Homo sapiens: one gene and its partners. The protein of the gene in region 1 interacts with the protein of each later gene in a pairwise test. Each region holds a gene or a part of one and is shown on either strand. Other genes may lie near its edges. The genes, in order: PABIR3, DLST, alpha-crystallin A2 chain, GIPC1 and ZDHHC17.

The links.
Region 2: the proteins of PABIR3 (region 1) and DLST interact in binary tests that used the Homo sapiens proteins (3 or more experiments, as listed by UniProt).
Region 3: the proteins of PABIR3 (region 1) and alpha-crystallin A2 chain interact in binary tests that used the Homo sapiens proteins (3 or more experiments, as listed by UniProt).
Region 4: the proteins of PABIR3 (region 1) and GIPC1 interact in binary tests that used the Homo sapiens proteins (3 or more experiments, as listed by UniProt).
Region 5: the proteins of PABIR3 (region 1) and ZDHHC17 interact in a two-hybrid assay, tested with the Homo sapiens proteins (one large-scale study listed by BioGRID and IntAct).

What each region holds. Positions count from the first base shown.
Region 1 is NC_000023.11:134,810,219-134,813,739, reverse strand, and holds part of PABIR3 (PABIR family member 1), read right to left. Parts: exon of another isoform or gene 2,557-3,521; intron 1-2,556.
Region 2 is NC_000014.9:74,898,909-74,901,593, forward strand, and holds part of DLST (dihydrolipoyllysine-residue succinyltransferase component of 2-oxoglutarate dehydrogenase complex, mitochondrial isoform 1 precursor), read left to right. Parts: intron 1-1,014; coding exon 1,015-1,088; intron 1,089-1,380; coding exon 1,381-1,464; intron 1,465-2,157; coding exon 2,158-2,325; intron 2,326-2,685. UniProt on the Homo sapiens protein: Dihydrolipoamide succinyltransferase (E2) component of the 2-oxoglutarate dehydrogenase complex. The 2-oxoglutarate dehydrogenase complex catalyzes the overall conversion of 2-oxoglutarate to succinyl-CoA and CO(2).
Region 3 is NC_000021.9:6,505,696-6,509,216, forward strand, and holds part of alpha-crystallin A2 chain, read left to right. Parts: intron 1-1,107; exon of another isoform or gene 1,108-1,694; intron 1,695-3,521. UniProt on the Homo sapiens protein: Contributes to the transparency and refractive index of the lens. In its oxidized form (absence of intramolecular disulfide bond), acts as a chaperone, preventing aggregation of various proteins under a wide range of stress conditions.
Region 4 is NC_000019.10:14,486,112-14,489,632, reverse strand, and holds part of GIPC1 (PDZ domain-containing protein GIPC1), read left to right. Parts: intron 1-3,521. UniProt on the Homo sapiens protein: May be involved in G protein-linked signaling.
Region 5 is NC_000012.12:76,809,097-76,812,617, reverse strand, and holds part of ZDHHC17 (palmitoyltransferase ZDHHC17), read right to left. Parts: coding exon 3,498-3,521; intron 2,906-3,497; coding exon 2,761-2,905; intron 1-2,760. UniProt on the Homo sapiens protein: Palmitoyltransferase that catalyzes the addition of palmitate onto various protein substrates and is involved in a variety of cellular processes.

The DNA of each region.
Region 1 (3,521 bases):
ATTGCCTAGGCTGCCCTCAAACTCCTAGGCTCAACGATGCTCCTGCCTCAGCCTCTCAAGTAGCTAGGACTACAGATCCCAGCGGTGCCCGGCATCTTTTCCTTTTTATTATAACTTTTTATTTTGAAACGGTTTAAGACTCACAAGAAGTTGCAAAAAGAATACAGATGGTTCACATGTACCCTTCATCCAGGTTCCTCCAATGTGAGAAATCATCTGTAATACTTTTGTTTTAGCTGCCTATATCCAATCAACTGCCAGTATTTTAGATTTTACCTCTATACTCGCTCTCTGATAACCACCTGATTCTTGTCAGGCTCCTTGCCAAAAACCAATTCAAGGTCTTTTTCCTTTTCCACAGACTGCATAGTCTAATTGGGCTCCTCGCCTCTCTTCTTTCCCTTCTCTAGGCTAACAGACTACCAGGGGCATCTTCCTAAAGAACAGTTTGCTCACAACTTTCAGTGACTCTCTTCAGTGCCTGTCAAATTCAGTTACGTTCTTTACTATGACATTCAAAGCCATCCACGGTTTGGCTCCAGACTCTTCAATTTCAAGGACTAGTACAATTTCAAAACAAAATCTAGGCAGAAACATACAGTTGCCACCTTTTTCTTTTGCCAAGTCATTTTTTTTTAAATCCCACCATTGACCAATACCATCATTTCATTTGTAAAATGACCCTTTGGTATTAAGAAAATAAGAGAATAACAATCTCAGAGTACAGTACAGTCCTGCCCAGGAAAGATAATTAACAACTACATAATGACATCTTTAATTATGCTGTACTTAACTCTTTTAAAAGCACGGATTGGTAAAAACTTCACCTGAGATCAGCACTGATCAGCAGATGAACATCTGGGAGTCAGGGGTTCAGGCAAAGTGGACCATTCAGTTCTCTGGAACACATCTATGCTTTTCTGCCTTCAAGTCTGTTCTACATATAATACTTAAAATACTATCCCAACCATTGTTCCCCCTCTTTTCCAGGGTGTATCCTATCAATCCATGAAGGCCCATCTCAAATGCCAACTTCTTCATAAACTTTTCCTTCTCCCTCACCAGTCCCGCTGTAATTTCTCCCTTCCTTCTTTGAATTCCCCTAGCACTTTATTTAGCTCCCTACGCACTTATCTTAAGCTCCCTACGCACTTATCTTACTCTACCATATATTTAAGTCCTTCTAGTATTTATATTCCCTATTAAAGCTTATTGAGCCCTGAGATACATCTTTGCAACATCATAATTTGCATATAACAGGCAGTAACTTAATATTTTGTGAATGGAAGGTATATGGATGTATCTAATTCTACTTACTTTCCCAGTCATTTTCTTTGTGAGAATAGGAATATGTTCTGGCAGTCACTCATAAGAAAATTGGAGGGACACTAATGGGCTATTTCTTTCCATTCTTTTTTGTGTACATGTGTAGGGGGCTTAATACTTAGGGCTGACAATGATATAGTCTACCCTAAATTTGTTTGCCAATTTTAGTAAGACTATAACTGAAAGAAAGAATTCAGGCAATATATACTTCAACTGGTATGCATCATTCAACATGAATTTATAAAACCCTAGCTGATATCTGAACTAAGTGCTACTTTTAACTCGGAAAAAGCAGAAGTAGTATAACTGGATGGATGTTCAATGTTCCACATCAAATGATCAATAAACAGCTCTGTCTAAACTATAATAGATTTATGTCACTTATATTCCCAAAGCAATCATTTCTCATGGCTGCTATTCTTCCACGTTCGTAAAAGTTCAATAAACCAGAAGATGGGCAAACTTTTTCTGCGAAGGGCCAGAGAGTAAATATTTTAGGATTTGTGGGCCATACAGTATCTGTTGCAACTCCTCAGTTCTGCCACTGCAGTGGGAAAGTAGCCATAGATAACAACTAAACAAATGGGGATGGTTCCATTCCAATAAAATTTTATTTGCAAATCCAGGTGGTGGGCTGCATTTGGCTCTGGGGCAGTAATTTGCCTTTCAAATAGAATTGAGGGTCAGGAGTGGTGGCTCACGCCTGTAATCCCAGCACTTTGGGAGGCCAAGGTGGGTGGATCACAAGGTCAAGGGTTCAAGACTAGCCTGGCCAACATAGTGAAACCCATCTCTACTAAAAATACAAAAATTAGCCTGGCCAACATAGTGAAACCCGTCTCTACTAAAAATACAAAAATTAGCCTGGCGTGGTGGTGCATGCCTGTAGTCCCAGCTACTCGGAGGCTGAGGCAGGAGAATCGCTTGAGCCCAGGAGGCAGAGGTTGCAGTGAGCCGAGATTGAACCACTGCACTCCAGCCTCAAGACTCCATCTCAGGAAAAAAAAAAAAAAGAATTGAGGCAGTAACAGTTTAAATGCAGGGTCAAGGTAGAGGTTTTTAAGGTAGGGAGGCACTGGCAGGAATACAAGAACCTAATCTCTGAGTCTTTGAATAAGGGTCAGAGAAAGAGAAGAAAAAACTCCTAGCTTTAAGTATAGTTATTGACACCAGTAATAAAGTCAGCCAATTACAGAGATAAAGAGTATAAAGAACCAAGAGGTTCAAAACTTTTGACGTTGGAATTTTTATTAGTTCAAGATATACATAAAACAGTGCAGATACTTCTTTAAAACAGTAATACTGTATTAAAGAGTTGATATGAAAGAAACAAACCTAAGGAATTTAATTCTGCAAATGCTGGTGCAAGAGGGTCTTTATATAGAAGAAACATCAAGCAAAGTTCGAAAATTACTTGAAAGAGGTGCAACAATGTTTAGCAAGCTAAATATTTTCTACAACAGCACAAAACATCCCCTCAGATCATTTGGGCAAGTTCCCTGACCTCAGGCATGTCACACATCATTCCTATGTTACTTCTTTCTGAGGGACTGGAGTCTCTGAACTCTGTCCACTTTGTGGTTTCTATATCTTTAATTCCTACTAAAGAAATATGCTAGTGACTTTCACCTTTCTGAAAAGAATGCTTTACTGGCCAGGTATAGTTTAGAAAGAGGAAGTACTCAAGTATTAGAGGGCCAAGGAAGGAAAAAAAAAGGGAGAAAAGTGAGCAGTATACATATGCAAATGAGAACTGAGGTGAAAATGAATTCAACTAAGGCTCAGTGTAATCCTACTCTAAATTTTTCTTGCTTCAGAATAACTTCTCTGACTATGCCCTACATTTTCTACAACAGCACAAAATATGCCCTCAGATCATCTGGGCAAGTCCCCTAATCTCAGGGATGTCACACATCATTCCTATGTTACTTCTTTCTGACAGACTAGAGTCCCTGGACTCCGTCCACTTTGTGGTTTCTGTATCTTTAAACTCCTACTACAGAAATATGCTAGTGACCCTTATCTTTCTGTACAAATTTTACTTCATGCATCAGGATCTTAAGCTATGGAATGTAACACTGTAGCTATGCTCTAATATAAGCAAAAAACAAACAAACAAAACAAAAAAATCCTTTGCAGAACAAAGCAAGGTATGAAGGGATAACTGAGATCTCTCTGTTTCCAGGGCTTTAAGG
Region 2 (2,685 bases), on another chromosome or scaffold:
CCTCACTGGGAGCTTCGGCTTGGCCTCTCATGGACCTGGTGCTTATTTTCTTTCCTTTTTACTTACCTACGTCATTGTAGTGTTGACCTAACAAGCACTTTGTTTTCCTGTTGACACACTTCTCTGTTCCTTGGGAGATTGGAGAGGGGTCAGTGCTACTTTTGCCATCCTCAGCAGTGTCAGGGGCCCTAAAGGTCTAGAAGTAGAAGCCCTAGTCCCTCCTGTTGAGTGGTGCTCTAGGGAGGTAGAAGGCCATCTTTGTTTTGCCCAAATGTATACCTCTTCTTTTTCCCATTCTTCTCATGCCTCCCTGACTGGCTCTCATCTTTTTCAGTGGCCCCCTTCTGCTTGCCCACACATGTAGGCGGCTCTCAAAAGTTCTCGTGGCCTCTTTTTCACATTACATGCTTCCTCTGGATGTCTTATCTAACAATACAACATGGACTTTCTGCGGAAATGATTCCCAAGCCTTTATTTTCCCATTAGTTGCTAGGTGTACATTTTCAGATGCTGGTTTGCCATCTCTTGAGGTAGCATATTTCAAAGCCAGATCACCCCGCTTACTCTTGGATCTCCCCTCTTCCTCTTGTTGAGAGTTGGAAGCAGAGAATGGGTAGTATCTCTATATCCCTTTTCCTTTGCTAATTTGCCCTTTTTTGGAACATTTGTTAACCCTAGTCATTCTCTGCTAAAGGAGGGCTTGACTAGAGCTACTTAACGAGAGTTTAGTGCATACCTATCCTATGGAAGCCAGTGTGTTGAGCCCTTCTTAGGGCTGCCAAAGAAATGGATGCTCCTATGCCCAGGCTCAGTCAGGGACTTGGGAGATACTATACTTGGGATGGGAGTAAGTGGAATGCCAGCTGCCATGCATAATGCAGTGGTGTTCATGGTGGTTGGTCAGCCCACACTGTATCAAGCTCTGCAGATTTTTACTCTGTTAATGCACATATTACCTCATTAGTCTTGGCCTTCCTGGGGAGTTGTATGTAACATGTATTTTCTCTCTCATAGTGATTGACGACACAACCAAAGAGGTGGTGTATAGGGATTATATTGACATCAGTGTTGCAGTGGCCACCCCACGGGTATGTTGGGGCAGGAGGTGGGGAATGTTGGTCTTAGACCCTCACCTTATCTGTGTGAAGGAGATCACACAAGAGAAATCATTTCTTTAATTCTGTATTTTTAGAAGGGAGTTAGTAAAAGTAACCTTTTTTTTCTTTTAAACCATGCCGCATTCTTTTAACACTTTCTGTTAATCACACTGAGTAATGAAGGTATTCTAGGGAGGGCATACCATGGGTTGAATCAAGGGAGTTGTTAACTATAAAAGGTACTATTAATTTGCAACTGAAAACAGCTTTTCACCCCCTTCAGGGTCTGGTGGTTCCAGTCATCAGGAATGTGGAAGCTATGAATTTTGCAGATATTGAACGGACCATCACTGAACTGGGAGAGAAGGTAAAGTAGAAAGATGTATACAAGCTGCTAAGCAGGCGAGGGAAGAGAGCCTTCAGAAGGCTGGGCTCACTAGCAAGCAGTGCTCATGGAAAGTCAAGTGCATAGCCCCTGAGAAAAGCAGTTGCCCATGAGAGCTAAGTATTTTATATATCTGGTGGAGTTTACCATGCTCTGGTAACTGAAATCTCATCAGATGAGACCTGCTAGAAAAGATCATCTTTGAAGTCTTCAACTGTATGAAATTGTGCCTTTTCTCTGGTGGAGCACTGGTCATAGACACCTTAGCCGAACAACTGTCACACGGAAGCTAGCGCTTGTGCCATCGATCTCGATACAAGCTTTCTGGACTTCCTTTGCTTTTTTGTTTTTAGAGGCAGGGTCTCGCTGTGTTGCCCAGGCTGGAGTAGAGTGGTAGAGTCATAGCTTACTGCAGCCTTGCACTCCTGGGCTCAAGCGATTCTCCTGCCTCAGCCTCCCAAGTAGCTGGGACTACAGGTGTGCACCACCATGCCTGGCTAATTCTTAAGTTTTTTATACAGATGGGGGTCTCACTATGTTGCCCAGGTTGGCCTTGAACTCCTGGCCTCAAGCAGTCCTCCTGCCTCGGCCTCCCAAAGCGCTGGGATTATGGACTGACTTTAGGTGAAGGAAACTGGGTTGGCTTGATATTTCAATTATGAAATCTGTTTTTAGGCCCGAAAGAATGAACTTGCCATTGAAGATATGGATGGCGGTACCTTCACCATTAGCAATGGAGGCGTTTTTGGCTCGCTCTTTGGAACACCCATTATCAACCCCCCTCAGTCTGCCATCCTGGGGATGCATGGCATCTTTGACAGGCCAGTGGCTATAGGAGGCAAGGTAGGAACCGTCACTTCTAAGGTCCTAGTGGCTAGGTCTCGATGAAAGGGAAATCCAACTAAATGCTAATTGTAAAACATTAACTATAATTTCAGGCCTAAGTTCCATTTCTTAGTTTCTAATAGCTAAGGCACTGATTATCAAATTGTGGTCTGGATCAGCATCATCTGGGACCTTATTAGAAATGCATATTCTTAGACCCCATCCCAGACTTAAAGAAGAAGTGCAGATGATCCTGATGCATATTCAAGTTTGAGAACCACTGAGCTGAGGAGGCTTGTTTGCTTCTATGGAGTGGGGGATATAGTTGGAAACGTGGTCCCTTGCCCCTGGGAAACAGATGACAATTATGCATGTCAG
Region 3 (3,521 bases), on another chromosome or scaffold:
GTTTCGCTCTCATTGCCCAGGCTGGAGTGTAAGGGATGGCCTGATCTCGGCTCACTGCAACTTCGGCCTGCCAGGTTCAAGCGGTCCTCCTGCCTCAGCCTCCCAAGTAGCTGGGATTACATGCATGCACCACCACACCTGGCTAATTTTGTATTTTTAGTAGAGACAAAGTTTCACCATGTTGGCCAGGCTGGTCTTGAACTCCTGATCTCAGGTGATCCACCCACCTTGGCCTCCCAAAGTGCTGGGATTACAGACATGAGCCACCGCACCCGGCCAAGTTTTTTCTTTTTTTATATGTAATAAGTTGGATAAAGTGTTTATAAAAAGTTAAAAGTAGGCCCTCAAGCAGGTAAAGTAGGCTTGCTTCTTTTCAGAGCTATCCATGCTGATTCCAGGCATAGAGAATGCCTCCTTTGCCCTATTCATTAAAGGGCTTCACCCTGAAGTCAGTAATCTAATAGAGAAACAAGCTAAGTTGAAAAGACCCTGTGATGGTTAATATTAGCTGTCAACCTGATTGGATTGAAGGATGGTAAAGTATTGTTCTTGGGTGTGTTGTGAGGGTGTTGCCAGAGGAAATTGACATTGGAGTCAGTGGACTGAGAGAGGAAGACCCACCCTCAGTGTGGGTGGGCACCATCCGATTGGCTGACAGTGTGGCTGGAACAAAGCAGGTGGAGGAGGGTGGGAGAAGCTGGCTTGCTGAGTCTTCTGGCTTTTGTAGCCACCCAGTGAGTTCACCTAGCCGGCTGCCTAGATGGAGCGGATTTATCAGGACAGGGGAATTGCAATGCAGAACGAGTAATTTACACAGAGCTAGCTGTGCGGGCGACTGGAGTTTTATTATTACTCAAATTAGACATCCCAAGAATTTGCAGATCAGAGTTTTTAAAGATAATTTGGCGGCTCAGGAAGTAGGAGTGCTGATTGATCTGGCTGGAGATGGAATCACAGGGAGGTCAAAGTGAGGTTTCCTTGCTGTCTTCTGTTCCTGGGTACAATGGCAGAACTGGCTGAGCCAGATAGCCGGTCTGTGTGGTATCAGCTGATCCATAGAGTACAGGGTCTTGCAGAATAAATACCTCAAGCACTGATCTTCGGATTACAATGGTGATGTTATCCCCAGGAGCAATTTCGGGAGGTTTGGACAGCCAGAGGCTGGATGACCTTTAAATCAAAATTTCTTTTTTTTTTTTTCAAAGAAGCCCCATTTTATTACAGAGAGCATACAAAGCCGTTTCCTCATAAGGAAAAGTACAGCTTCCCTTCTCCAGGGTGACAGATGAGCCTTTTCTGAAGTTCTCAGCTTTCTCTTCTATCGATATTTCCCATGTCAGTTAAAGTGTTTGTAGAGACAGCTGATGCGTTTATTGAGGTTGTGCAGCTCATCAGCAAACATTCTGTTTCCAACCATTTTCTTCTTTAGCATACAGCGTTGCAATTCATTCCCCTTCCAATCTCGAAGCCATATGGGGTCCCTGATCAGCTTTTGGGGTGCTTTTCAAAGTTTCCCAGGATCCTGATGTTGTCATACACTCTGAACATGGCCATCCTTTCGTTCCAAGGATCAACTACTTTGGGGGGTAGGAGCCTTATACCAATCAATCTAGGAATACCAAGAAAGAAGCTTCTGCATGCCACACCTAGTCCCACAGGCGCCTACCTGCCCTACATAAGAGGCTCCCTGCCATTTCTCTAGTCTGCCCCTTCAACAGCACACCAAATAAGCCCAAGAATGAGGACCAGATGTGGCCTTCAAGAAGACAACAGGAACCGTCCCTGTCGACTTCACACGGGTACTAACGTGAAGGCAGCCACCTTGGGCCTTAAAATTTCTAATCTTGTAGCTAATTTGTTACTCCTACAAAGGCAGACTGGTTCCTAGGCAAGAAGGGGATCTTTCTGGGAAATGGCTATTATCAATTTTGTTTCAGAGTCAAACTATAAGCTAAATTCCTTCCCAAGGTTAGTTGGCCTGTGCCCAGGCATGAACAAAGACAGCCTAAAGGTTAGAAGCAAGATGGAGTCAGGTAGGTCTGATCTCTTTCACTGTCATCATTTCCTCAGTTGTAATTTTTGCAGAGGCAGTTTCACTTTCATCTTTCTCCTGTGCTGGATGCCTCCTCCGTTCCCCCTGCCCTTGGACATCAGACTCCAGGTTCTTTGGCCTTTGGACTCTTGGACTTAAGCCAGTGGTTTGCTTGGGACTCTCGGGCCTTCAGCCACAGATTGAAGCCTGCACTGTTGGCTTCCCTACTTTTGAGGCTTTTGGACTCCGACTGAGCCACTCCTGGCTTCCTTCTTCTGCAGCTTGCAGACGGTGTATCATGGGACTTCACCCTGTGATGGTGTGAACTAGTTCTCCCTAATATACTCCCTTTCATATATATGTCTATTCTGTTAGTTCTGCCCCTCTGGAGAACCCTAACTAATGCAGACCCTTGTGTAACTTTGATATCCAAAATATGGCTTTCTAGCATTTAGCTGGCTATTTTGAAACTCTTTGTAAAAAAAATTTATATATATGAAGGAAATCTCCATTTGTAAGGGTGTCTCCCTCCCTGCACCCAAACTGCTAGAAACTGAAGATGGGGAAGACATTGGCTGAAGACACTGTCTTACAGTTTACATCACAGACCTTGCCTTCGGTGGAAATACTTTTCCTGGCAACCTCGTCTTCACTAGGTGTAGGGACCAGCCCCACAGGATCGGTGGGTTTTTCTCCCCATGTGCAGAGACGAGAGATTGTAGAAATAAAGACACAAGACAAAGAGATAAAAGGAAAGACAGGTGGGCCTGGGGGACCACTAACACCAAGATGCGGAGACCGGTAATGGCCCCGAATGTCTGGCTGCGTTGTTATTTATTGGATACAAAGCAAAAGGGGCAGGGTAAAGAGTGTGAGTCATCTCCAATGATAGGTAGGGTCACGTGGGTCACGTGTCCACTGGACAGGGGGCCCTTCCCTGCCTGGCAGCCAAGGCAGAGAGGGGGAGAGAGAGAGACAGCTTGCGCCATTATTTCTGCATATCAGAGACTTTTAGTACTTTCACTAATTTGCTACTGCTATCTAGAAGGCAGAGCCAGGTGTACAGGATGGAACACGAAGGCGGACTAGGAGTGTGACCACTGAAGCACAGCGTCACAGGGAGATGGTATGCCTTCGGATAACTGAAGGTGGGCCTGAGGCCCTCCACAAGAGATGGAGGAGTAGAGTCTTCTCTGAACTCCCGTGGGGAAAGGGAGACTCCCTTTCCCGGTCTGCTAAGTAGCCGGTGTTTTTCCTTGACACTGACGCTACTGCTAGACCATGGTCCGCTTGACAACAGGCGTCTTCCCAGACGCTGGCGTTACCGCTAGACCAAGGAGCCCTCTGGTGGCCCTGTCCGGGCATAACAGAAGGCTCGCATGCTTGTCTTCTGGTCACTTCTCACTATGTCCCCTCAGCTCCTGTGTCTGTATGGCCTGGTTTTTCCTAGGTTATGATTGTAGAGCGAGGATTATTGTAATATTGGAAT
Region 4 (3,521 bases), on another chromosome or scaffold:
TGAACAGCCATTATTTATACTCATTCCAAGGCTTCTAACATGATGATACTATTTCCTCGTATTTCCACCATTCCAATATTTTTCTGTTGTCCACTAGTCGCCATCTCCACACATTCATCTATCACAAGGTTCATAAAGGGATCAAATCCCCGCAATATTCCTTGGACATGTCTGCCACCATTTAATTTCAATGAAAACTTCTTGTCCGTAAATTTTTTCAACTCAGGAGGGTGAGCTTTGCTCATGGTGTATACTCCATGGGCTCACAGATGCCTTGGAACAGAACGCACGGCTTCCCTCACGCTACCGCGGTAGGCCCAGCATCTTGTGCCTGGCGTCATCGACCTCGTTAGCCAATCGATTGTTCGAGCATGAGTTTCAATGGGGCAAACCTTATCCAAACCATAGCAGGCTGGGTGTGGTAGCTCATGCCTATAATCCCAGCACTTTGGAAGGCCAAGGCGGGAGGATTGCTTGAGCCCAGGAGTTCAGGACCAATCTGGGCAACGTAGTGAGACCCGTCTCTACAAAAAATAAAAATTAGCTGGGCATGGCTGTGAACACCTGTAGTCTCAGCTATTCAGGAGGTTGAGACAGGAGGATTGCTTGAGCCCAGGAATTTGAGGCTGTAGTGAGCTGTGATCACATCACTCCACTGCAGCCTGGACGACAGAGTGAGACCCCATTAAAAAAAAAAAATCAGGAAAACATAGCAACCTGTTACCTCCCTGCCCTCATGTTCTCACTATCCCCCCTTCACTCACTGTTCCAACCCCCCAGGCCTCCTCACTGTTCCTCAAACATGCCAATTGCATGCCCAGTTCAGGGCTTGGCTTTTCTTTCTTTTTTTTTTTTTTGTTTAGACCGAGTCTCGCTCTGTCGCCCAGGCTGGAGTGCAATGGCGTGATCTCAGCTCACTGCAACCTCAGCCTCAGGAGTAGCTGGGATTACAAGCATGCACCACTACGCCCAGCTAATTTTTGTGTTTTTAGTAGAGATGAGGTTTGCATGCACCACCATACCTGGCTAATTTTTGTATTTTTAGTAGAGACGGGGTTTCACCATGTTGGTCAGGCTGGCCTCAAACTCCTGACCTCATGATCCGCCTGCCTTGGCCTTCCAAAGTGCTGGGATTACAGGCATGAGCCACCGCGCCTGGCTAGGGCTTTTCTTTGTTTTTTTGAGATGGAGTCTCGGTTTGTCACCCAGGCTGGAGTGCAGTGGTGTGATCTCGGCTCACTGCAACCTCCGCCTCCTGCATTCAAGTGATTCTCCCACCTCAGCTTCCCGAGTAGCTGGGATCACAGGTGTGCACCACCACGCCCACCTGTGTATTGTATTTTTAGTAGAGATGGGGTTTTGCCATGTAGGCCAGGCTGGTCTCAAACTGCTGACCTCATGTGATCCGTCAACCTCAACCTCCCAAAGTGCTGGGATTACAGGCTTGAGCCACCATGCCCAGCCCCAGCTCAGGGCCTTTCTACTGGCTGTTCTCTCTACTTGGGACGTTCTTGCCCCAAATCATTGCATGAATGCTTCCTCCTGTGGTTCAGGTCTCAAGTTCAGCTTCACGTGCTCAGAGACGCCCTCACTGATCTTGTCTATAGAACTTGTCTTGCTTTGTCTCCATATCACTATTAAAAATTATATGAGGCTGGGCACAGTGGCTCATGCCTATAATCCCAGCTCGTTAGGAGTCCATGGCAGGAGGATTACTTGAGCCCAGGAGTTTGAGACCAGCCGGGACAACATAGCAAGACCCTGTCTCTAAAAAATAAAAATAAAAAAATTAGCAGGGCATGGTGGCAAGCACCTGTGGTCCCAGCTACTCAAGAGGCTGGGGCGGGAGGATCACTTGAGCCCAGGAGGGCAAGGGTGCAGTGAGCTCTGATTGCACCACTGCACCTCAGCCTTGGCAACACAGCAAGACTCTGTCAAAAAAAAAAAGGAAAATAAAGGAAAAAATTTATATTAGACATTTACACATTTCCCTGCTCCCTGTGCATTTCCTCTTCCGGACTGTCCACTTCTGGAGGTCATGTGCAGAGCCCCAGCTAGCCTATATAGCATCTGTGAGTGAATTAGAAAGACATCTCTTCGGCCGGGTGCAGTGACTCATGCCTGTAATCCCAGCACTTTGGGAGGCTGAGGCGAGCGAATCACGAGGTCAGGAGTTCGAGACCAGCCTGGCCAACGTAGTGAAACTCCGTCTCTACTAAAAACACAAAAAAAATTAGCCGGGCATGGTGGCGTGCACCTGTAGTCCCAGCTACCTGGGAGGCTGAGGCAGGAGAATTGCTGGAACCTGGGAGGCGGAGCTTGCAGTGAGCCAAGATTGCACCACTGCACTCCAGCCTGGGCAACACAGAACAGACTCTGTCTCAAAAAAAAAAAAAGAAAGAAAGAAAAAAAAGAAAAAAAGAAAGGCATCTCTTCCTCCTGGCAGACACCACACCAAGAAATATAGCTTGGCAGGCAGTGCACAGACCGAATTTCAGTCCTACTTGCCACCTTGGTCTAGTAATTTTGCACAGTACACAACTTGTGTAACTGAACATGGTGGCCCTAGTCAGGGATCTTGCTTTTTTTATTGAAGACAGTATCTAAAATGGTGCACAGAATACAGTAAGTACTAAAAAGAAAAAAAAAATTGTTTGAAGGGAGGGGAGAATGGAGAAAGAGAGAAATAAAGAAGCGGGCCGGGCGCGGTGGCTCATGCCTGTAATCCCAGCACTTCAAGAGGCTGAGGCGGGTGGATCACTTGAGGTCAGGAGTCTTCTGTAGTCACAGCTACTTGGGAGGTTGAGGCAGGTGAATCGCTTGAACCCAGGAGGCGGAGGTTGCAGTGAGCTGAGATCGCACCACTGCACTGCTGCTTGGGTGACAGAGCAAGACTCTGTCTCAAAAAAAAAAAAAAAAAGAAAGAAAGAAAGCAAGAAAGAAACAGAAAAAAAATGTATGTGGTGTAGAAAACAACCCCAAAAGTCTTAGTGGCTGAATTCAGCAAAGATTTGCTTTTTCTTCCTGCTACACTTCCATTGCGGCTCAGCAGGGGGCACCATTCACCGTAGTCATTCAGGGCCCGGCCTCATAGAGTCGCCACCATATCAAATGTGGCTCATCACCCTGCCTGGGAAAGATAGATCTCTGGAGGCTCCAGCACTTAAATGCCTCAGCCCAGAAATGTCATGTGCCACTTCCTCTCACAACCTATTTGCCAGAAATAATCATTTATCTGCCCAGTCACAAGGAGGCCAGGAAGTGCCATCCACCTGTTTGGTCCAAAGGGGGAGAGTCAGAAATTTTTTGCACACAGTGTTAGTGACTGTGGCTGAGAGGAAAATAGAAGCGTAGTCGCTTTCAGCCTCCATTTTCTCATCTGTTCAATGGGCATAATTGTAGCATAACGTGATCCCTGTGTTACAGTGTGGTGTGAGGGTTAAGGAAGGTCACAGGCCGGGCACGGTGGCCCATACCTGTCATGCCAGAGCTTTGGGAGGCCAAAAGCTCCTTGAAGCCAG
Region 5 (3,521 bases), on another chromosome or scaffold:
AAGTAATAAAAATGTAGTAAAAATTTATCAGAACATAGTTAACATTAAGAAAAACAATATTATTGACTACAGTCGATAAAAGAGAAAGGGAAGAAGAAATAAAAATATGCTAATTTTATTACTGCTTATAATTAGGAACTATGTAATCAGAACTAATAAAATTTGAGCAACCATCTGACTGAAGAGAGAGAGAGAAACTGTGTGACTATCTGAGGAAAGAATATACCAGCAGAAGAAACAGCAACCAAAAGGCCCTTAGACAACAGCATGTCAGAGTTGCTGAAAAAGTAGCAAAAAAAAACTAGTGCAGTTAAAGCAGAGTGATGATGGGGAGATGGCAGAAGTGGAGCTCAAAGGTATCCAGGGGTTAAACGGCACAGTGCTCTAGCACAGAGAAAAACTCTGGGCCCTCACAGTATGATGCAATGCACATTGGAAGAGTGTCTTTTACAATATATTAGTGTATACATGTTGAGTATCCTTTATGTAAAATGCTTGGGACCAGAAGTGTTTGAATATGTGTATGTTTTTCCTATGTTGAAATATTTGCATATATGTAATAAAATCTTGAGAATGGGACCAAAATCTAAATGTGGAATTCATTCATCTTTCATATACACCTTATACATACAGCCTGAAGGCAATTTTATTCAATATTTTAAATAATTTTGTACATGAAACAAAGTGTGTGTACAACGAACTATATTGGAAAGCAAAGGTGTCAGGGGTAAAATTTTCCACTTGTGGCATCATGTTGACACTCAAAACGTTTTGGATTTCGCAGCATTCCGGATTTTCAGATTACAGATGCTTAATCTGTACATGGAATAAAATCTCTTAAAATACATACTACATTATTAAAGGAAGTAACCTCAGTCAGCAGATGGCCAAGGGGAGAGGTGAGATTTCATTTTCTAAGTCATATTCTATTATGCCTGAATATTTCATAATAAACATTTATTATCTTTGTGTGCAGAAAAAAAATTTACTCATGGAAAAAAAAAACTATTTCTCAGACATTTATCATCATCATTATCATCATCATGCCCTTTTTGTACCAAAAGCACTGACAGGTAGAAATCCTGCCCTTTGAGAATTTTATAGCCTATATACTATACCAGAGGTTAAAAAGATTAATGAAATAATCCAAACTCCAAAATCAATAAGTTAAAAAAAAGACCATGAAGACTCAAAAATGTACACCACCTTTCTTTCCCAGTTAAAAACTGAAAGTAAAAAAGTGAATGTGTATTGTAGATTTATTCTGCAATATGGAAGGCCACTAAAGACCTTGTGATGTGCTATAGCACCATTTACTGCTTCAACGTTTGTTCTAGAAAAAAACTGCAGAATAACAAGAATAATCTCCTATAGCAGTTGCTCTCCAGATGACCCCCCATAAACCTGGCCTCTTGGTATTCACACCCTTGTGTGGTCCCTTCCCTCCGGGTGGTTATGGCCCTTGTTAACTCACTTTAACTGATAGAATGGAGAAAAAACGTTGCTGTGTCAGTTCAAGACCTAAGACTTAAAAATGCAAAACAGCTTCTACTTTTGTTCTTTTGGGAGCTCTAAGCCAATATGTAAGAAGTCTAGTTCTCCTGCTGGAAAGACCACATGGACTGGTATTGAAAAGTAGAAGTTCTGACACTACATAGAGAAAGAAAGAGGCCTCGCTGCCCCAGCCTCCCAGTTAAGCAGTTTGTAGCCATTCCTATCAAGTCACAAGATATGTGAGCCAATCTTCCAGCTCAGTCAAGCCGCCAGACAACTGCAGCCACCAGCCAAGGAGAAAAACCATCCAGCCAAGCCCACAAAATTGTGAGACGTATTAATTGGTTGGTATTGTTCTTAAGCCATTAGATTTTGGCAGTAGTTTTTTAACACAGTAACAGACAATAACCCCCCCTCCCCTTCCAGCAATTAACTTTATCAGTCTATGCCTCTTTTCCTAAACTATAATGCACAACACAACTGCCACTGCTTGAGACTGCCAACAACAAATACTGTAAAACCTTCATTAAAAGAAATAGTATTCAAATTCTAAATCCGCATAGAATTTTAAATTAACAATAAATACATGTTGATAGCAACAAATTAAATACATATATCTTAAAGTTATTCTTGTGATGAGATCCTTACTTATAAAATTAATGTTCAAATATAACCAGAAAAAACACACTAAAGAAAAACTGGGTGACATTACTTTTAACAAAATACGTTTATTACAAAAACATGATTATATAAACTGGTAATATTTAATGTGATTATGGTCACTGCACACTCAAGAAAAATCAGGAACAACCACTTAAAATATGATGTTTTTCTGACAAGTAAGAAGCAGCATTATCTTATACAGCAGAAACTGATCTTAAAAAATGTATCCCTCTCAAGAGATATTTAATATATAAAATAACCAATAAATAAGTTCAAAAAAGTTTGGATGAATTCAGATGATATATTCAAAATACATAAAGAAAAAATAGATACTTATATTTTCTCTCTTAATTTCTGAGCTTTATCTCCATTACTCTTAGAAATAAAAAACCCAACTTCATCATTATCTGGTTCATGATTTTCATGCTGGCTTTTATGTTAGGTACATTAAATATCTCCATATCAAACTCACTATATTTATGTTCTTCACCCATCAGAAAGTGCTATTTAAATATCAACGGCTTGTTACAACACCAATAATATTAGGCATTTAAACTATGAAGAACATCTGATTAAAATCCATACCACTGAGATTTTTTTTACCTGTCCTTTTGCTATGAGATAAGCAACAATTGAGGTATGTCCGAACTGAGCAGCCAGATGAATACAGCTACATCCTTCTCCATCAATTAATGAAGGATCTGCACCATATTTCATTAGTTGCACAACCATGGATAGATGGCCTTGTCTAAAACATAAAAGAATAAACACTTAGATATATAAAGTTATTTCAAACAGGATCCTCTGGGAAGAGCTTTTTCAAGTAAGGTATGGTGGGAAGATTACGTATGTATTTTGAAAAGTTATTTTAAAATAGATACATGTCAAAATACATTTAGGATTTTATGGTTCTTAGAAGTCTTAACTAGATTAACAGTCTGAAAATGTATGGAAGTACTCATAACTTATTTAAATATATAGTAAATAATTACTATATTCTATTATGTCCATTCTAATATTATCTCAATCATCCCAAGAAATGAGCTAATTCTTTCATTGTAAATATATACAGGCTGCAAAAATATTACGTTTAGAAATCCAAAGTTTAATCCAATCTTATAACTAACTGAATTAATATCAGCATGGCCAGGGAAACTTTGGACAATAAACTTTTGCTTCTTTACAGGTAATATTTCACAATAAAACATCAGCATATTTATGATATTAACTAACGGCATAATAAGCTCTCCTATTCATTTTAGTATATCATTTTTTTAAAGTTGTTTATTTATATACTAATAAAGGAACCAAAGGAAAAAAATCCAGAAGCAAATTTAAACCTTGTGGCCCAGTGCAATGGAGTT